Linked DNA regions of Homo sapiens. The protein of the gene in region 1 purifies or fractionates together with the protein of each later gene. This does not show direct contact. Each region holds a gene or a part of one and is shown in the gene's direction. Other genes may lie near its edges.

Evidence for each region.
Region 2: the proteins of TAGAP (region 1) and PUS7 purify together in Homo sapiens (affinity purification with mass spectrometry; one large-scale study listed by BioGRID and IntAct). This does not show direct contact.
Region 3: the proteins of TAGAP (region 1) and TOMM34 purify together in Homo sapiens (affinity purification with mass spectrometry; one large-scale study listed by BioGRID and IntAct). This does not show direct contact.
Region 4: the proteins of TAGAP (region 1) and CTNNAL1 purify together in Homo sapiens (affinity purification with mass spectrometry; one large-scale study listed by BioGRID and IntAct). This does not show direct contact.

Annotation. Positions count from the first base shown.
Region 1 is NC_000006.12:159,034,193-159,039,484, reverse strand, and holds the end of TAGAP (T-cell activation Rho GTPase-activating protein), read left to right. Parts: intron 1-175; coding exon 176-371; coding exon of another isoform or gene 372-389; exon of another isoform or gene 390-580; intron 581-1,256; coding exon 1,257-1,371; intron 1,372-2,360; coding exon 2,361-3,658; 3' UTR 3,659-5,004; downstream 5,005-5,292. UniProt on the Homo sapiens protein: May function as a GTPase-activating protein and may play important roles during T-cell activation.
Region 2 is NC_000007.14:105,480,213-105,485,504, reverse strand, and holds part of PUS7 (pseudouridylate synthase 7 homolog), read left to right. Parts: intron 1-3,064; coding exon 3,065-3,193; intron 3,194-4,327; coding exon 4,328-4,453; intron 4,454-5,292. UniProt on the Homo sapiens protein: Pseudouridylate synthase that catalyzes pseudouridylation of RNAs.
Region 3 is NC_000020.11:44,953,339-44,958,630, reverse strand, and holds part of TOMM34 (mitochondrial import receptor subunit TOM34), read left to right. Parts: exon of another isoform or gene 1-294; intron 295-323; exon of another isoform or gene 324-338; coding exon of another isoform or gene 339-387; intron 388-2,145; coding exon 2,146-2,245; intron 2,246-3,010; exon of another isoform or gene 3,011-3,410; coding exon 3,411-3,563; intron 3,564-5,292. UniProt on the Homo sapiens protein: Plays a role in the import of cytosolically synthesized preproteins into mitochondria. Binds the mature portion of precursor proteins. Interacts with cellular components, and possesses weak ATPase activity.
Region 4 is NC_000009.12:108,988,941-108,994,232, reverse strand, and holds part of CTNNAL1 (alpha-catulin), read left to right. Parts: intron 1-1,413; coding exon 1,414-1,601; intron 1,602-1,609; exon of another isoform or gene 1,610-1,824; intron 1,825-2,282; exon of another isoform or gene 2,283-2,396; intron 2,397-3,387; coding exon 3,388-3,507; intron 3,508-5,292. UniProt on the Homo sapiens protein: May modulate the Rho pathway signaling by providing a scaffold for the Lbc Rho guanine nucleotide exchange factor (ARHGEF1).

The DNA of each region.
Region 1 (5,292 bases):
TCTCACTCTGTGTCAGTTGCCACTGGAAGTGTCTGAATGAGCATTTCACAATATTACTTGTGAAAATGCACCTTCCTCATTTTAAAGGAAGTCTGGTTTCGGCAGAAACTCTCAGCTTGCTACACTGAAGACCATTAGCCTTTTTGAAAACTAACATCCCTTCACTTTATTCCAGGGTTGCAGATAAGCTCCCCCGGCCCAACCTCCTGCTACTCAAGCACTTGGTCTATGTGCTGCACCTCATCAGCAAGAACTCTGAGGTGAACAGGATGGACTCCAGCAATCTGGCCATCTGCATTGGACCCAACATGCTCACCCTGGAGAATGACCAGAGCCTGTCATTTGAAGCCCAGAAGGACCTGAACAACAAGGTTTGTTCTGCTTACTGATGAGAAATCCCCAACTTATGATCTCACCATCTGTTTGCCAAGTCCAGGCAATAAAATGCTTCAGAATGTCTCCAACTGACTCAGAATCACAGTGAAAATATAAAATGCAAAATGCTTTTGTCATAGTTCCACTCTCTCAGATACATGTATCTAATGAAACTGAATAAATCCGTGTCTTCTGTCATCTGTGAGACAGATGAGTGCTGCGAGTATTTACATCACTCTCTCCCGATATAAAAAAGCCCTTTTGTTTTTGTGTTTTGTACACCACAGTCTATCAGTCTATCAATCTGGGACACTACTTACTTAAATGAAAATTTTATTAATACTTTAAATTTTTTTAAGTTCTTAAATTTAAAATGCATGTCTCAAAACACCAAGGAGTATCTAACTTTAATGTATGTGATTGTTGGCATGGTGGCTCACGTCTGAAATCTCAGCACTTTGGGAGGCCGAGGCAGGCGAATTGCCTGAGCTCAGGAGTTTGAGACCAGCCTGGGCAACATGACAAAACCCCGTCTCCACTAAAAATAGAAAAAATTAGCCAGGCGTGGTGGCGGGCGCCCGTAGTCCCAGCTGCTCGGAAGGCTGAGGCGGGAGAATCGCTTGAGCCCGGGAGGCAGAGGTTGCAGTGAGCTGAGATCAGGCTACTGCACTCCAGCCTGGTGACAGAGTGAAAGCCTGTCTCAAAAAAAAAAAAAAGTATCTGATTGTTACCAAATTTCTGTATGCTCTTTTCAGACACATAAAGATCTCAGATTCTCATTTTGGCACCTGACTCCAGTGTCCCCATTCTTCCTCACCTCCAAAAAAAAAAAAAAAAAAAAAAAGTCTTCAAGCTGACAAATTGCTTACTTTTCCTCACAGGTGAAGACACTGGTGGAATTCCTCATTGATAACTGCTTTGAAATATTTGGGGAGAACATTCCAGTGCATTCCAGTATCACTTCTGATGACTCCCTGGAGCACACTGACAGTTCAGGTATGGAATGTGCTATCATTTGATTACGATTGTAGGGAAAAGTTCATGCCAGTCTGCCAGTCATGTAAAGCATCTCTGATATTTGAGGCAGAAGTTACCTTCACAAATCACCGAGTCAGACTAGACTCCAGTCCATTAGGAAGTCATTAAACATGAAAACCCTGCTCCGGGCTTTTCCTGCAGCGCCTCCTCAGACCACAGATAGTCTTTCCCCCTTCCCAGTGTACATCGCAAATCACTGCTGATTTCACTAAGCTACCTTTAGCTCTGGAGTTGGAGTGAGAAACTTTTGTTTCCACTTCATGGGATATGACTCCATCACAATGAAAATGGGTCCAGTAAAAGGAGCAGTTTTAAAAATTAAGGTCAATACATTTTCAGTGAAATGCTGTTCTCTCTTTTCTTATTCTCTCCTCTCTTTCTCTCCTTCCTCCCTCCTTTACTCATTTCCTTTCCCTATTTTTCTTCTGATCTCAAAATAAATTCAGAAAGAAATAAACTTTTCATGTGGTACATTTCTTGTCATATCAAGCCCCTAAGTAGTTCTGCTAATAAATCACCTAGTGCCCTGATTGGTATGAGCAGGGCGAACTGTAGCAAAGTTCATTTCTAAAAGAACCTAAATGGCCGTGTGTGGTGGCTCACGCCTATAATCCCAGCACTTTGGGAGGCCAAGGCAGGCAGATTACCTGAGATCAGGAGTTCAAAAACAGCCTAGCCAACATGGTGAAACCCCGTCTCTACTAAAAATAGAAAAAATAGCCAGGCATGGTGGCGGGCACCTGTAATCCCAGCTACTGAGGCTGAGGAAGGAGAATCACTTGAACCCGGGAGGTAGAGGTTGCAGTGAGCCGAGATCACATCACTGCACTCCAGCCTGGGCAACAAACCGAGACTCCATCTCAAAAAATGAAAATAAAAAATACAAATAAAAATAAATAAATAAATAAACCCAAACAAATGTTCAACTGCTGCTTGACTTCCCCCAGATGTGTCGACCCTGCAGAATGACTCAGCCTACGACAGCAACGACCCTGATGTGGAATCCAACAGCAGCAGTGGCATCAGCTCTCCCAGCAGGCAGCCCCAGGTGCCCATGGCCACAGCTGCTGGCTTGGATAGCGCGGGCCCACAGGATGCCCGAGAGGTCAGCCCAGAGCCCATTGTGAGCACCGTGGCCAGGCTGAAAAGCTCCCTCGCACAGCCCGATAGGAGATACTCAGAGCCCAGCATGCCATCCTCCCAGGAGTGCCTCGAGAGCCGGGTGACAAACCAAACACTAACAAAGAGTGAAGGGGACTTCCCCGTGCCCCGGGTAGGCTCTCGTTTGGAAAGTGAGGAGGCTGAAGACCCATTTCCAGAGGAGGTCTTCCCTGCAGTGCAAGGCAAAACCAAGAGGCCGGTGGACCTGAAGATCAAGAACTTGGCCCCGGGTTCGGTGCTCCCGCGGGCACTGGTTCTCAAAGCCTTCTCCAGCAGCTCGCTGGACGCGTCCTCTGACAGCTCGCCCGTGGCTTCTCCTTCCAGTCCCAAAAGAAATTTCTTCAGCAGACATCAGTCTTTCACCACAAAGACAGAGAAAGGCAAGCCCAGCCGAGAAATTAAAAAGCACTCCATGTCTTTCACCTTTGCCCCTCACAAAAAAGTGCTGACCAAAAACCTCAGCGCGGGCTCTGGGAAATCGCAAGACTTTACCAGGGACCACGTCCCGAGGGGTGTCAGAAAGGAAAGCCAGCTTGCCGGCCGAATCGTGCAGGAAAATGGGTGTGAAACCCACAACCAAACAGCCCGCGGCTTCTGCCTGAGACCCCACGCCCTCTCGGTGGATGATGTGTTCCAGGGAGCTGACTGGGAGAGGCCTGGAAGCCCACCCTCTTATGAAGAGGCCATGCAGGGCCCGGCAGCCAGACTAGTGGCCTCCGAGAGCCAGACCGTGGGGAGCATGACGGTGGGGAGCATGAGGGCGAGGATGCTGGAGGCGCACTGCCTCCTACCCCCTCTTCCACCTGCTCACCACGTAGAGGACTCAAGACACAGGGGCAGCAAAGAGCCACTCCCTGGCCACGGACTCTCTCCCCTGCCTGAGCGATGGAAACAGAGCAGAACTGTCCATGCTTCTGGGGACTCTCTGGGGCACGTGTCTGGCCCAGGGAGACCTGAGCTCCTCCCGCTGAGGACCGTCTCCGAGTCCGTGCAGAGGAATAAGCGGGACTGTCTCGTGCGACGATGTAGCCAGCCGGTCTTTGAGGCTGACCAATTCCAATATGCCAAAGAATCGTATATTTAGGAGGGAGGCCATACGCCATGCCATAGCTTGTGCTATCTGTAAATATGAGACTTGTAAAGAACTGCCTGTAGATTGTTTTTAAAAGGTCTTGAATAAGCTCCTTGAGAAAGTTGTGGAAAGCCCTCCTCAGTGAGGATAGCTACACCATGGCCATGGCGCATCAGATAGTCTCTGTGTACCTGGATTTGTGCAATATGTAAAAATGTATCAAATGTATTATAGATAAGGTGTTAGGTGCAAAGGATGTCTAATAATCCCTGCACACGTTTTGAACTTGCAGTGAAGTACACTGCTGTTCCTTGCTTCCTGGGGCACTTTTCTCTTGGTTAGTGTTTAAAAATTATCTTCGCTTTTTTAATGTGGCCTCAAATGTCATGCCAATTTTCACATCTTCCACAAACTCCATTTAGGGAGAAATGTTTAAATCTCTGGTATAAGTTTACTCCATACCAGAGTAAACTATATATTACTCTATATAAGCAGTCTTGCAATAACTAATCACCACCATAGAAGAAAGAAACAGACTGCAAGGAACAGAGTTGAGTGTCTGGAGTCATCAAAGGCATTAAAAACTCCAGTAAAAGCTGGGGCCGTAGCAAAAATCATGAAAAACACTTCAACGTGTCCTTTCAATCATCCAATTAAATGTGGGTAGATTAATGAAAATGTATTACATCAATATTAACTCATCTATAGCACTTTGAGTATCTTTGTAGTTCATGATATCCTATCCTATAATGTGGAGGTAAATGATTTTATATGCATTGGGGGTCATATATAAAACTTCAATGTAATTTCACTACAATAAATTGCCTTCCTTATTTGAAAGTAAAAATGTTCTTTTTTTATTGACATGTTAACTCCTTTCCCTCAATTAATAGAAATCCACTAAGAAAATCATTCACATATTGGTTCACTCAACAAGCATTTATTAAATATATATTCACTATTCTAGACTAATAGCAAGACCGGGGATCTTGTTTAGGAAGAAGCAGTCCCTGTTCTCCAGAATTTGCAAAACCATTAAAAAAGCACCTACTTTAAGCCATTTTTTTTCAGCAAGGAGTCATTCTGCCAGAAAAATGTAGTACACAAATACAGGATAATATAACAAATGTAAAATTTCTCATTTCTAGTGAATTAAACTTTCCAGTAATTTTACATCTCACCTCATTCTTATGATGCTCAGTTTGCTTAATTATTGGCAAACATAATGGTAAAATGTTTGTACTGTATTAGAGCTTTACTGTTCGATTATTAAGATATTTATCCAGTATCTTAGAGATGCTGGACTTCAATTTTCCTTATTTTATCTTTTTAAAATAAAATATCATGCATGCTTCTGATTTGTTATAGAAATATTTTGTGTTGAGTCTTTTCGGAGATGATTTATCAATAATGGGCAAAGTTAATAATGTTGTAAAATAGACTGCTCAAGGCAGCATACTCAGACCTAATATTAAAAATACTTTATTGATGGGCCAGGTGTGGTGGCTCACACCTGTAATCCCAGCACTTTGGGAGGCCGAGGTGGGCAGATCATTTGAGATTGGGAGTCTGAGACCAGCCTGGCCAACATGGTGAAACCCCATCTCTACTAAAAATACAAAACATAGCTAGGTGTGGTGATGGGT
Region 2 (5,292 bases), on another chromosome or scaffold:
AGCAAGGTGGCTCATGCCTGTAATCCCAGCACTTTGGGAGGCTAGGGCGGGCAGATCACCTGAGGTCAGGAGTTCAAGACCAGCCATGACCAACATGGAGAAACCCTGTCTCTACTAAAAATACAAAATTAGCCGGGCATGGTGCCGCATGCCTGTAATCCCAGCTACTCGGGAGGCCGAGGCAGGAGAATCGGTTGAACCCGGGAAGCGGAGGTTGCAGTGAGCCAAGATCGCGCCATTGCGCTCCAGCCTGGGCAAAGAGCAAAACTCCATCTCAAAAAACAACGACGACAACAACAACAAAAAACAGTACTCTACTTACATTTGAGATTAAAAAAAAAAGAATCTCTGACCAGGTGTGGTGGCTGACCCCTGTAATCCCAGCACTTTGTGGGGCTGAGGCGGGAAGATCACTTGAGTTTGAGACCAGCCTGGCCAACCTGGTGAAACCCCATCTCTGCTAAAAATATAAAAATTGGCCAGGCATGGTGGTGTGTGCCTGTAGCCCCAGCTACTCAGGAAGCCAGGGCAGGATAATTCCTTGATTTCAGGAGCCAGAGGTGGCAGTGAGCTGAGATCATGCCACTGCACTCCAGCCTGGGCGACACAGAGCAAGACTCCGTCTTAAAAAAAAAAAAAAAAAAAAAAATCTCTGACTGGTGACATCCTAAGTATGAGTTAAATCTCAGAGCTTTTTTTTTTTTTGACAGCCAAGCTGGAGTGCAGTGGCACGATCTCAGCTCACTGCAACCTCTGCCTCCCGGGCTCAAGCAATTCTCCTGCCTCAGCCCCCAAGTAGCTGGGATTACAGGCGTGTGCCACCACACCCGGCTAATTTTTGTATTTTTAGTAGAGACGGGGTTTCACCATATTGGCCAGGCTGGTCTCGAATTCCTGACCTCAGGTAATCCGCCCGCCTCGGCCTCCCAAAGTGCTGGGATTACAGGCATGAAGCACCGCGCCCGGTCCCAGAGCTATTTTTTTTTTTTTTTTTAAGAAAAAAAGATTCATGAATTTAACTAAAGTTTCTCCATATAGTTGTTTGTTTTAATTTTAGAGATGGGATCTTGCTGTGTTGGCCAGGCTGGTCTTGAACTCCTGGGCTCAAGCTATCTGCCCATCTAGGCCTCCTAAAGTACTGGGATTACAGGCGTAAACCACTGTGCCTGGCCCCTACATAGTTTTTATTTACAGAAGAATGCCAACAAATATAGAAACACAGTTTCAGTCAACACAGTAATAATCAATTCAGCCAACAATCATGCTTGGGTACCTAAATAATTGGGTAAAGACTTTGGGGGAACAGGATTTTTACACAATTTCAAAAGTATTTCCCCACTGATGACTAATTAAAAGCAAAGACAAAGAGACTCTTAGAGTGTAAAAATCTAGTAAATACTATCCTAATTAAATGATTAAAGTTATTATCATTGTTGGACAAAATCACTGCCTTTTGATGTGATGCATTGAAAAGGGCCATATCACCTCAGTAATATTTCTACCAAAGTGTTTACCTGAGTCTCAGCATGAGGAAACAATCAGATAAATCCACATTGAAAGACGTGTAAAAGCGCTGGCCTGGATTCTTCTAAGGGCCAGATATCATGAAAAACAAGGCTAGACAGATCACTTAGTGGAAACCAAACAGACATCACAGCTGCAATGTGTGATCCTCAATTGGATCCTGGCAGCCTAAAAAACAAAAAGATGGCCAGGTGCACTGGCTCATGGCTGTAATCCCAACACTTTGGGAAGCTGAGGTGGGTGGATCACTTGAGGCCAGGAGATCGAGACCAGCCTGGCCAACATAGTGAAACTCTGTCTCTACTGAAAATACAAAAAAACATAGCCAGGTGTGGTGGCATGTACCTGTATTCTCAGCTACTCGGGAGGCTCAGGCAGAAGAATCTCTTGAACTTATCTCACGCCTGTAATCGCAGCACTGTGCGAGGCCAATGTGGGTGGATCACCTGAGGTCAGGAGTTCAAGACCAGCCTGGCCAACATGGTGAAACCCGTCTCTACTAAAAATATAAAAATTAGCTGGGCACGGTGGCTCATACCTGTAATCTCAGCACTTTGGGAGGCCGAGGCGGGCGGATCACCTGAGGTCAGGAGTTCAAGACCAGCCTGGCCAACATGGTGAAACCCCATCTGTACTAAAACTAAAAAAAAATTAGCCGGGCATGGTGGTGTGCGCCTGTAAGCCCAGCTACTTGGGAGGCTGAGGCAGGAGATTCACTTGAGCCAGGGAGGCAGAGTGAGCTGAGATCATGCCACTGCACTCCAGTCTGGGCAACAGAGAGAGACTGTCTCAAAAAAAAAAAAGGAAAGAAAGAAACAACATTGGGTGTTAGTGGTGACACTAGAGATAAAAAGGGGAGAAAGGCTTTTCAGTACTCTGTTTCTCTATATACATTTCCTATTGAAGAAGGCAAGGAATTTCTAATGAAAATTTCTATATATTGATAGCAGCATGATACAGATTTGGGTAGAATTCCAGCTATATATAACATGTCTTTTAAAAAAAGAAAGGGAGGAAATAAAAAGTTAGATGTCAGTGGAAATTTTTTTCAGGCAATGAAAATATGAATTTCTTTTCCTTTTCTCTTTTTTATATTTTCCAAGTTTTCTGTAATGAGTTTACAAAATTTTTCTGATTGACAAAAATAATGACCTTTTTTTAAATGCTTGATACCATTCTTTCTATGGGATTTGTCTCTGTCCCCATCCCTTTTCTCACCCCTCTCCCCACAAAAAGTAGAAAATTCCACAGATATTATTGTTCTGTTACTCATCAGCATGTAAATAACAAGAGGCTTTAAGTATATAAAATATGGCCAGGAGTATGCAATTTGAACAGGAGCACGTACCATTACACTGAAGGAAGAATGCAGAGAGAAGAGAAGGACACGCCCACCTCACCTGCTGCAGTGCCTTTTCCTTTCAGGGGGTCATAGGTGTGCTGTATCTTGTTTTCTGTACTGTTCCAAGCAGACAATCAGTATCTCATGATCCTCTTTCTACTCTTTTTTGTTTTGTTGCTTTTTTTTTTTTTTTTAAAGAATAACTGCACAAAGACTTGCCCACCTGAATAAGTGCTTGATGAACTTTAAGCTAGGGAATTTCAGCTATCAAAAAAACCCACTGAAATTGGGAGAGCTTCAAGGAAACCACTTCACTGTTGTTCTCAGGTAAAGAACTGCAGGTGGGAATGTAGACCAGAGGGTCTGGCCAGGGCATCTTGAGTATGTTACTCACGGTTGGTCATAAGGTCCTGGTGAGCTGGTACTAACAGAACAGGAGTGGCAGCAAGGGAGGGCAGAGCAGGGCCTGGCAGGGCTGGGAGAGCAGATACCTCTGTGAGAGCAAATACCTCTGTAGGATTTGTGTGGACACCTTGCCCCTTGAAAACCTAGTGCAGCCTTTGGAAAGACACCATCTCCTTCAAATATTGTAGTAAAAGACACCGAGCCGGCTGGGCGCAGTGGCTCACGCCTGTAATCCCAGCACTTTGGGAGGCCTTGGCAGGTGGATCACAAGGTCAGGAGATCGAGACCATCCTGGCTAATACGGTGAAACCCTGTCTCTACTAAAAATACAAAAAATTAGCCGGGCGTGGTGGCAGACACCTGTAGTCCCAGCTACTCAGGAGGCTGAGGCAGGAGAATGGCGTGAACCGAGGAGGCAGAACTTGCAGTGAGCCGAGATCGCTCCACTGCACTCCAGCCTAGGGGACAGAGTGAGACTCCAACTCAAAAAAAAAAAAAAGACACTGAGCCTGTGATTCCACTTAAAGCGCCTAGAATAGGCAAATCCATGGACATAGAAAGTAAAATAGTGGTTACTGGGGAAAGGGTAGGGTAGGGGTAATGGAAAGTTACTGTTTAGGGGTACAGAGTTTCATTTTGGAAACGGGAAAAAATTTGGGAAGTAGATAGTGGTGAGGATTGTCCAACATTGTGCATATAATTAACCCATTTATGCTAGTGTTCCATTATTGGAACACTAAGCATGTAGGAATTATTTATATCCTACTGCTCAAGGTCATCGCCAAGGTCTGATTGCAAAAATTCAAAAAATTGCAACCTCTGCCATAAATGGGTTAATACCGCCAAATTGCACACTTAAAAATGGCTAAAATAGTAAATTTGACATTATAAATATCTTACCACAACTTAAAGAAAGAAAGAGCCCTTGGGAGGTAGAGAGAAAGCTGCAGGAGAGTGAACGAAAGACTTGGAAGCCAGGCCGTAGTCATTTATGAGCTGCATCCCTGAGTATTTGACTGTAACTTTTTTTCCTCTGGATAATTTGTGTCCCTGTAGAAATATAACAGGAACTGATGACCAAGTACAGCAAGCTATGAACTCTCTCAAGGAGATTGGATTTATTAACTACTATGGAATGCAAAGATTTGGAACCACAGCTGTCCCTACGTATCAGGTTGGAAGGTTGGTATTTAATTTCTTTTATCAAAAATAGCTTTCTCATAAACAAAGCAGGGTTTGTTGGTGGTGGTGTTTTTAATTATTTCTACGTTCTCCCATGTCTGGGGCAAATGAACCACAGTTTCATGATTTTTGTTTTAAGTTAATGAGTGCACAGGGTAAAAAATCGGAGTTCAAAAGGATATGACCTGAAAAGTGAGCTTTCCTACCACTCTTGGTTACCCATCCAGGGGTTCTATTTTTATTTTTTTATTTTATTTTATATATTTATTTTTTCTGAGACAGAGTTTCGCCCTTGTTGCCCAGGCTGGAGTGCAATAGCGCAATCTCGGCTCACCGCATCCTCTGCCTCCCAGGTTCAAGTGATTCTCCTGCCTCAGCCTCCTGAGTAGCTGGGTTTACAGGCATGCGCCACCATGACTGGCTAATTTTGCATTTTTAGTAGAGATGGGGTTTCTCCATGTTGGTCAGGCTGGTCTCGAACTCCCAACCTCAGGTGATCCCCCGACCTCAGCCTCCCAAACTGCTGGGATTACAGGCATGAGCCTCCACACCCAGCTATTTTTTTTATTTTTTATTTTTTTGAGATGGAATCTTTGTTGTTCAGGCTGAAGTACAGTGGTGCAATGTTGGCTCACTGCAATCTCCACCTCCCAGGTTCAAGCAATTCTCCTGCCTCGGCATCCCAAGTAGCTGAGATTGCAGGCTTTTGCCACCACATCCAGCTAACTTTGTTGTATTTTTAGTAGTGGCGGGAATTTCACCATGTTGGCCAGGCTGGTCTTGAACTCCTGACCTCAAATGATCCGCCTACCTCAGCCTCCCAAAGTGTTGGGATTACA
Region 3 (5,292 bases), on another chromosome or scaffold:
TTGATTTATCTGATCAGTCTTCTTGATCACGAAGAGAGCTCAGGGAACAGGCTAACACAATGAACCCTTCCAGCAAGTCTATGAAGTGATATCCTCATGTGGTAGGTGGGCACGCATGATCAGAGGGATGGAGTGACTTGTCCGGATCGCAGGGTTGATGCCCTTTCCACCGCACCACTGCTGTTTCTGAGCAACCGTACTCTGGTGACTCAAGATGGATTACAGGTTTTGGGTACTTAGCTCCTTAAGGGCAAGGATGTATTTTACTAGTCTTTGTACTTTCCGTCTCTGGGCCTGGCAAAACAAGAGGGGAAAACGCTTGTTATTGTTGGTATTGAATGAAAGATATCAAATATCAACATGGCAACAGGATACTGAGTGAAAAAAGTAAGTTGCAGAAGGATAGGCAATATGATGCCTCTTAGGAAATGCTTTAATAGACATAAAATGGTATCTTTCCTGTTAACACACACACACACACACACATATATATACATATACATATATATACATGTACATGTATACATATATACATATACATATATACATATATATGTAAATGTAGAACATGCTTGAAAATGTTACATACCAACTTCAGGATTGTACTGGCCTCTGTGAGTCTGGGGAGGGAGCACAGGGATAAGGATGGGGATGGCTGGAGTTTTAGCTTATCAAAAAAATTTTTAAGGGTTGGGTGCCATAGCTCATGCCTATAATCCCAACACTTTGGGAGGCCAAAGCGGGAGGATCACTTGAGGCTAGGCATTCAAGACCAACCTGGGCAACACAGTGGGACTCTGTCTCTACAAAAACTTTAAAAATTAACTGGGCTTGGGGGTACACACCTGTAGTCCTATCTGCTTGGTAGGCTGAGCTGGGAAGATCACTTGAGCCCAAGAGTTTGAGGCTGCAGTGAGCTATGATTGTGCTACTACACTTCAGCCTGGGCAACAGAGGGAGACGCTGTCTCTAAAAATTAAAAAAGTTGGGAACTAATATAACGTGCTAAATCTAGTGGTGGATTCTGAGATAATGGTCTTCTGTATGTTTCAAAATTTTCAAAAAGAGACCCTGTTTTCAATTCTTTTTAAAATAATGGCCGACACTAGTGGGTATGAAGTGGTTGAAAATTATCTTTAAAAATAAAGATCATTGTTGGTTGGGCACGGTGGCTCACGTCTGTAATCCCAGTACTTTGGGAGGCCGAGGCAGGCGGATTGCCTGAGGTCAGGAGTTCAAGACCAGCTTGGCCAACATAGTGAAACCCTGTCTCTACCAGGCGTGGTGGCGAGTGCCTGTAATCCCAGCTACTCAGGAGGCTGAGGCTGAGGCAGGAGAATTGCTTGAACCCAGGAGGTGGAGTTGCAGTGAGCGGAGATCGCTCCACTGCACTCCAGGCTGGGCAACAGAGCAGGACTCTGTCTCAAAAAAAAATACGTAAATAAAGATCATGGTGGCCACAGTGAAGGACTTGAGCCTCTGCGATTCCTGAGGGTAAGGACTGCCTTAGAAGAATGTCTAATAATTCTCCCCATGGGGTAGCTTAAGACTTTTTCCTGATTAAGTTCTCTGTACTCCCATCACACCCAGCTCAATTATCATTTCCCTGACAAAGTCCTCCCTGGCTTGACCAGGTAAAACTAGTCTCATGTCTTTCATGGGTGTTTTGTGCCCCTACAACTTTTGGTCAATCCATTTATCATACGTTTATCATCTTGTTCCCTCCCTCCCTCCCTTTCTTTTCTTTTTTTTTTTTTCTTTCTTTCTTGGATTTAAATGCTTTTTGTAATAAAATACACACCTATCCATCCATTTATCCACCCAAACCCAAGTAGTTACAGCATGGATTTCTTTGAGGCAGAAGCTAGCTATTTCTTGTTTATCTTTTGTCTGTTATCAAGTTCAGTGCTGGAATGAGTGAATGAGGAAATACTTGGTTCCCTTTGAATGGCAAAAAGCGCAGTGTCCTTCTGTCACATAAGAATGACAAACACGCCAGCCCAGCAGACCAACAAGCCTGAACAGGTTATAGTTATCTCTACTGCCTTAACACAAGGCCCAAAGAGCTCTGAGTTTGAAATGTATCCTAATGCCCTGAGGCACCCATTTTCCAAACTGATCATCTTCCCCACTCTATCTGGGCAGGTTCTTCAGACCCAGAAGAAGAAAGTGTTCTCTACTCCAACCGAGCAGCATGTCACTTGAAGGATGGAAACTGCAGAGACTGCATCAAAGATTGCACTTCGTAAGTGGCCAAGGGTAATTTTGGGATGCCTGAGGGTCTCAGAAGAGGAGGCTGGGTTAATCTGGCTTGTTTCTTCTTTGGAAGGATCCCATCAATTACATCTGGGACAGATATTAAGAAAGTGTCACTGAGTTTCACCAGGTCACTGAGAATGGGAGTCTTTATTTGGTCCTTATGGCCCGTGACTTGCATCTTTGGAGTCTTGGCTCTGCTGCCGAAAAAGGAGTGGGATGGGCAGTTAGAAGCAGGCCGTAAAGTCTTTGTGCAATTTGAAACCTGGGAATAAGGTGGAGTGGCAGACCAGTAACTGGCTTGCCCAGGTGCTTTTCTGGGATGGGAGTATGTGAGGGGAAGGGAGCGAAGGAAAGAAGGAGGAATAGAGGTTAATAGATTGTCTCAGAAGGAGAAAGGAAAAAAATGGTATTCATGAATGACCAGTTTTAGAGGACACTGAACAATGTTTCATATCTCTTTTTCTTCAAGCCAGTCTAATATTCTTTTATCATCATTAAACTCTCACATTTACCTGAAATGTGTTCTCAGATCTGATGTCCTCTGACATTGCTTTAGATTCCTGCCCTGGTGATAGCCAGGAGAGCAGGAGGGGTGTGAGCATACTCACAGAGCCTGTGCTGAATTAATTTGTGCCATGCCTTGTGCCAGATTTCCCTCTTTGAGTGTTCACAACCAATCTGTGGGGTACGGTTACCATGTGTCCCAGGCCAGAACTTGGTTGCTGAGGGTTGGGGCAGTAAAGTGATTTACCTGGGTCACATAGTTAGCAGCAGAGGTGGAATTCAGACACCACCCCATCTGACTCCAAAGCTTGTTTGTTATTCCCACTAGACCACAACTGTAAAAAAACATAGTAGCATGAAAGCCATGAGGCTTTTGTTCTTGATTTTGGGGGAACTGAAACTATGAAAATTGATGCATGTGCACACACATTTAACAAAATTCATGTTTCTCTGCCTTCTTTCTCCTCCTCACTTCAGTCTACGTTGAAAAATCCCTGTTCTGAGGTTTGGCGTTTTTAGCCATGTCTCTCGGCCAGAAATTACTTCCTGTACGCTGAGTGCTCCAGATAACCCTGCCTGGAAGAAACTGTAGGGAAACCCTGGTGGCTCAGCAGCCAGCCAGTTGACATTTTTGCCTCCTATTCTAGAGCACTGGCCTTGGTTCCCTTCAGCATTAAGCCCCTGCTGCGGCGAGCATCTGCTTATGAGGCTCTGGAGAAGTACCCTATGGCCTATGTTGACTATAAGACTGTGCTGCAGATTGATGATAATGTGACGTCAGCCGTAGAAGGCATCAACAGGTGAGCTCCATTCCCAGCAGGTGGTCTCCACGGCAACTCCCTGTCCTTCTTGATTGGCTGCGGGCCATTGCCTTGTCTGTCTTCTGAGGGGATCCCTTTGGCTACACTTAAAAAACTCCCGATGGGCATGTAGGGGAAGCTGAGAAAGGAAAATCTGCTTTTTTATTTAGCAGGTTTTCAGGGAGTCAATTACTAAGATTGATTGATTGATATTTGCCTACATGTGCCTCACAGTATCTATGTACACAGTAATATTTATTGTACACTGTTTAAGGTGTTGTGCCCGGTTCAGTGGGGGATACCAAAATGAGAAAGAGATACAGACCCCACTTACCTTCAAAGCGCTAACGCTAATTAGAAGAATAAGACACAAGCCCAAGCAGCTATGACAAGCCTAAAAGGATATGGTTTGTGGACATGGTTCAGTATATTGCACTGTGACCAATCCAAGAGGTTCCCCAGGTGCAATTCCTTTCTGGTCTCTGAGCAGTTATTGGCTTTTATCTCATGGATATTGTCATTTGTATAACTGATCATGTTTCCCCTCTGCGTGTGCGGCTAGAAAGCCAAACACTGCACTAATAGCAAACCCTTAACAGGGACTTCATGGTATGTATTTAGTGCTTTATTTCTGGCTTGACTTGTCTGCCAGCATTCTTTGTTTTCTCTTTGCCTCCTTTTTAACTTATCTGATTCCACAAAATCTACCAATTATGTGACAGACTTTGCTCTAGGACCTGGGCTGATGACTGAGACATACCTCTTCCTGCCGTCATAGAGGTCCCGGTCTCAAGGAAGACACCAGTCAGTAATAGGCAAGCACAATACAACATGATAAGCGCCATGGTAGGAGGCAGCACAGGGGGCTCTGAGGCCAGAAAGGAGCCACCTAGCTAGCTGAGAGGGAGAGGGGGAGGCCAGAGAGAGCTTTTCAGAGGAGGTGAGCTAAGAATGAGAGATATGGGGTAGGGGGTTAGCCAGAAGACAGAGCAGCGTGTGCAAAGGTGAGCAAGTGTGACAGATCACAGGAATTGTAAGAAGTCGGTTTCACATGGTGCTGCAGGCAGGAGCTCAGCTTGGGACAGGTTGGTGAGGCCAAGTCACACAAGACCCAGGGTTCAGGGCTTGGACTTAATCCTGAGCAAGTCAGCCTTTATGAAAAGGTCTTTAGCAGTGGAGCAACATGAGCAGATTTGTATTTTAGAGAAAAGCTCTTTGCTGCCATGTTGAGGGATGATATGAAGGGCAACAGAATAGAAAGGAGTCATGCAGCAATCCAGGGGAGAGGGTGGAGAGAAAACAATGGGACCAGTCAGGGGACATGTAGGAAGTATATCAACAAGCTTTAGTGGTTGCGGGGTATCGAGAAGGGAGGAATAGAAGAAGACACTCAGATTATTGACATTCAGTCGGAGGTGACTGTGGGACATAAGACTAGAGATCTAAGTAGGACGGTTGGGTATTTACATGGAACAAAGGAAGAAAATACAGGCCAGACATAAGGATTTGAGGGTCATCAGCGCAGAGGTGGATTAGGGCTGTGAGAAAGAAAAAGAACATCACAGCTAGTGTGAAGAGGATGGAGCTTTGAGAAACTCCAGCATTTGAGGGACTTACAGAGGAACAGCAGCTAGAGAGGTGGGAGGAAACAGGGCATTGATGTCCCAAGGGAAGGAGTATTTCAAGAAAGATGGAGACATCATTAGTGTCAGGTGTTCCAAGGAGCTTA
Region 4 (5,292 bases), on another chromosome or scaffold:
TTGAGACCAAGTCTCACTCTGTCACCCAGGCTGAAGTGCAGTGGCGCCATCTCAGCTGACTGCAACCTCCGCTTCCCAGGTCCAAGCGATTCTCTGCCTCAGCCTCCTGAGTAGCTGGGATTACAGGCCCCTGCCACCACACCTGGCTAATTTTTGTATTTTTTTAGTAGAGACCGAGTTTCGCCATGTTGGCCAGGCTTGTCTTGAACTCCTGACCTCAGGTGATCCACCCGCCTCGGCCTCCTAAAGTGCTAGGATTACAGGTGTGAGCCACTGTGCCTGCCAGACTGATCTTTCCAAACCTTGACTTATACTTCACCCTGTGGCCTCTCCATTAAGATTCCAGTACTTTTTACTCAAGATCCTTAGCCTATGAGCTGACACATTATTGTGTGTATGTAATAGAATTGACAGGAGGGCTTTTGTAAGAAAATCAATCCATTAGGCACACAGGTATATTTAGGACTTTAAAAAATGATCTTGAACACTATAAGTTGGTTAAAGGTTTATTATTTTAAAAATCTTTTTAACAGTATGGAGGTTTGAAGAATATTGTAGCCTTGTATTATAATACAAGAATACTTGGATTGTTTTATTAGTAGATAATTACCATTACAGAAATCAAAAGTTTTGATAGCAACAGTGAAGAAGATAATTTTTCTAGAGGGTTGGGAGTTCAATTAATAGAATGGTTTATGCTGGGCATCATAAGAAGTTTATATAAATTCAAACTGTAGCCTAAATGAGGGCCAGCCTGTGGTTTGAATTCTCAGGAGGGAGGCTTTTGTTTTGTTTACTTTCCCCACCCAAAGTCCAGGCTGACTGACAGACAAACTTCCTTATTGTTTCTTTTTGCCTATTGACAGTTCTTTCCGGGCCCCCATTATATTGAAGATGTCATCCCTTGGGGCCTAAAGCCCTGTCTTTTTTCTCTCTCTGAGGATCCGTGAAAACCCAAGGGTGAAAACCCAAGGCCGTTCAGCTTGTGGAGATTGGCAGTGACCCCTGACTTCTCCCCGGCCTCGCCCCAGCCCAAGCCTTGGCACCTGCTTACTGCTCGGGTTTTAGGGTATTCTTTGGTTTTTGACTCATGGGATTTCTCTTACTGTCTTGTAGGGCAGGAGGCTTTTAGATTGTGTAGTTTGCATTACCACTGGAAACAAAAATTATGATGTTTTTCAAACTGGGTGAGGGCAAAATTTGTCACAGTTCTTAAGAGTGTGCTATTATTTTCTGGTTAGAAAGCTTCGTATGATAATCCCTACAATCGTCAAGGTGAAACCGTTTCTTGTTCCTGAAGTAAGACTCCAAAGCTGAGTTTCTCCTCATTGTGCCTTACCTTCAAGGTTAGAGAGAAGTCTAGATTTTAATTTGTATGCCTGTTTAACTTTCTCCCCTCGTCTTTCTTGTTAGGAGAAACAATTGCAGCACTTACAGACATAACCAACTTGAACCATCTGGAATCTGATGGGCAGATCACAATTTTTACAGACAAAACAGGAGTGATAAAGGCTGCAAGATTACTTCTTTCTTCAGTGACAAAAGTGTTGTTGCTGGCAGACCGAGTAGTCATTAAACAGATAATAACATCAAGAAATAAGGTACTTACCTTTCTGATGTTGCTGTATTTTTGTCTTTCTGTGTTGTTCAAAGTGCTTTTTATGACTCTTAGTGGTGGATTGCTTGGCTTGTGTGTCGATGAAGAATGCAGCTAGCTGTGGGAATTAATGTGCAATGCAGGATACATTGACACACTGATCATCTGTACGTTGAATGCACTTGTGGCCCTGGGTTCCTCCCGGGGCTATGCATGTCTGAGCGTTGCTTAAAAAAAAAAAAAAAGAAAAGTTCTTTTTAGGTTAATTGTAAGTAATTTGGCAATGCTTGTCTATTATAATTGTTTATAACTCTGTCTGTAGTTTAAAAGTAGTGTTTCTTCTATATGTGCAATTCTTAAATGATGGGTATGCTGTGCCTAAACTTTTGAATGCAAGTAATGTCTCCTCTTAGAGAATCATTATCCACTTGTTAAGGCTTATTGGTAAAAGCTTTAAATGTGTACAACATTTGGAAAGAAAAGGTGAGCACTATGATAATGTATGTAGCAGAAACCTAGTTGATAAAAATACTGAATTCTTCTGTACTTTTTTTCCCTCCCAAATCAGAGACTAACAATATATAACTTAAGACACAGTTAAATCAGTGGAAATGATAATTATCCACAACTACAAAATTTCTGTACTCAGAGTCCCTAAATGTTACTGAATAATCTCAAAACTTACAGAACAGATTTAAACTCTTCCAGTCCAGAAGTTAATCTCTCAGATGATGGTCATGCTCCATGATCATCTGGGAATCCAGGGTATGTACGATCACTTCTTGCTTTGGATAATTCCCTAGGCAAAGAGGAGAGCAGTTGGCCAGGGAAGGAGTTGTCCTAGAGGATTTGAGGATAAAACCACTTGATAAGTGTTGAATGAATCAGAAATTGGAGAGGTGGATCTGGCAGCGCTGGAGAAATACAAACAACCTTCCCCTCTTTGAAAGATGGAGGTTCTCACAGTGGTGGCAACGTGCCTTATCAGTGTTAGTCGCCTGAACTTCCTGAGCTGCCAGGGCAGATTAACATGCCAAATATTCATCATATTCTCAGGAAAAATAAGTAAACAGAGGATATCTGTGTTTTTTTTTAACTTATCTTGTTGCGACTAAAACAATCTAATAATGTTATTTTAAAGAAAAGTATTTGAAAATATGTTTCACATCTATTTACTTTGTTTCTTACATCAAGAAAACACATAACATTTTAGTCACTGGCTCTACCAGATTCACACACTCTTTATTCACCCCTGATGGCCCATTCCTGACTGAGCCAGACTAATTTTCCCACCCTTAAAGTCCCACACTTCCCTTTCGACTCTATACTCTGAAGATGATGAGGTTCCTTCTGCTTTCCTGAGAATGTTAGGGTTCCTATCATCCTGGTTCACTGAACCTTAAAGCTTGTGTGTGCTGACTTTCATCCTCACCCCTTCCCAGTTCTCTGAAGATTTGATTACTGTGGTCCTGCCCATTCCCACCTTTTAGACTTGGCTACATAAATGATCCCTTCCTTTGTATATGTAGTCATTTCTTTTATTCTTTTTCCTTTTCCTTTTCAAGTAACTCAAAATCTCATCATATAAACAAATCATTCCCCTAATAATTCTGTGCCTTGAATCTACTTCTACTTCTCTGAGCATCCCCTTGTGTGTCTTCTATCTGGCTCCTCCTCCTCAGCTTTCACCTAGAATTCAGAATTTTCCTTTTCTTCTCTCTACTCAGCCTTGACAATCTCAGTCTCTTGAGTAGCTCTCACCAAATAATGAATTATTATCTGTTTTGCAGGTTCTCGCAACTATGGAAAGACTAGAGAAAGTGAATAGCTTTCAAGAGTTTGTCCAAATATTCAGTCAATTTGGAAATGAAATGGTGGAGTTTGCACATCTGAGTGGAGATAGACAAAATGTATGTATTCATCACATTTTACAATCTTCAGATAAATACATACTTTTTAGTTTGGATGGAGGTATGATCGTTAGGATTGTTTGGACTGGTTTCTTTGCTTATTAAGTCTATAGCCTTGGTCTTGAAAGCCTTTCATAGATAAGCCAGGATAAAGTAAGTAGATCTATATGTCTTTTTTTGTACATTTATAACAGTTAATTTTGTTCCCACCTCACACACTGGGAAAGGTCATACTTGCTATCAGGGCTCAACTCAAGTACTTCTTCCTTTTATTTGGTTACTTTCTCTTTTATGAAGCTTTCCATTTGATTCCTCTACTAGGGCTCAGGCACATAAAATTGAGTCATCATATGTATTCTTATAGTATCTTGTTAGATATTTGTTATTCTTACCGTATTAGATTAATAGTAATAACCCAAGCCATTATTTATTTGCACTGCCTATGTGTTAGGTACTTAATATACATGATCTCATTTAATTTTCAAAACATCCCTATGAGGTAGGTATTGTTAACTACTGTTTTACATATAGGGAAACTGAACCTGAGACAAGGATAAACTTTCCCAAGGTCACTGTGCTAGCAGATCGAACTCAGTTATATCTGATTCTAAAGTCTGTAGTTCTCAAACTACAACATGATATTTGTTTTTTATTTTATTTTATTTTATTTTTTCTGAGATGGAGTCTCTCTCTGTCACCCAGGCTGGAGTGCAGTGTCGTGATCACGGCTCACTGCAACCTCCACCTCCTGGGTTCAAGTGATTCTCATGCCTCAGCCTCCCGAGTAGCTGGGACTACAGGCATGCACCACCACGCCCAGCTAACTTTTTGTATTTTTAGTAGAGACAGGGTTTCACCATGTTGGCCAGGCTGGTCTCGAACTCCTAATCTCAGGTGATCCGCCCGCCTCAGCCTCCCAAAGTGCTGGGATTACAGGCGTGAATCACCGTGCCCAGCCAATATTAGTTCCTTATGGGTCTGTTCCCCAATTCAGACAGTAAGCTCCTCAGTTTTGGGAGATGGAAGATCATATTATGTCTAGGATTGACTTTTCCTTGTTGGGGTATTTGTGTAGGAGTCTGTCTTGTTGGCAGGTTAAATATATATAATAATTGACCATTTCTTGGGATGGTTCTGGGTGTAGTCCCATAGGCTAGTCTCTCAGTTTTTGATATGAACTTTCCCAATTGCAGCTGGAGTTGAAAAATGGGTATTGGTCTGGCAAGTGGCAGGCTAAATAATGGCATTGGTTTGTAATACCAATGGTGTTTCTATAGGCAGGTACTTTATTGTTTCATTTTCTGTCTGCCATTATTGTTCTTTATAAAACAAATTTTCTTTCTTTTCCTTCTCTTTCTCTTAATCTTCCTTCTTCTCCTCATTCTCCCCAATGATAATTATTAGCCTGAGTATTTTTATAATAATAGTAGCTTATAATCTAGCATTTTCTTGATCACTTGAGCAAGCGTGGCATGAGTCATAGGTTCTAAAGCTACCATCCTTCAGTTACACTTCCTACAGGATCCTCTTCAGCTTCTGGACATAACTGAAAAACTTTCACCATCATTTTGATTTGTAGTTAGAAATTTGGCATGGAGAACATTTTATTTTTCTCAATTCTTGTAATATTGTGATCCAACATTTAAAAACTTCTGGCTGAAGTGGTATCTATTTTTAGCAATTTAGCTCATTAAATGTGGGACCCCTGAAACTTACTGGCAGCCTTTTTATCATCTGTGTTTGATAAGTGCTACTCCTGGGTCACTTTTTTGGAATATGCATCCA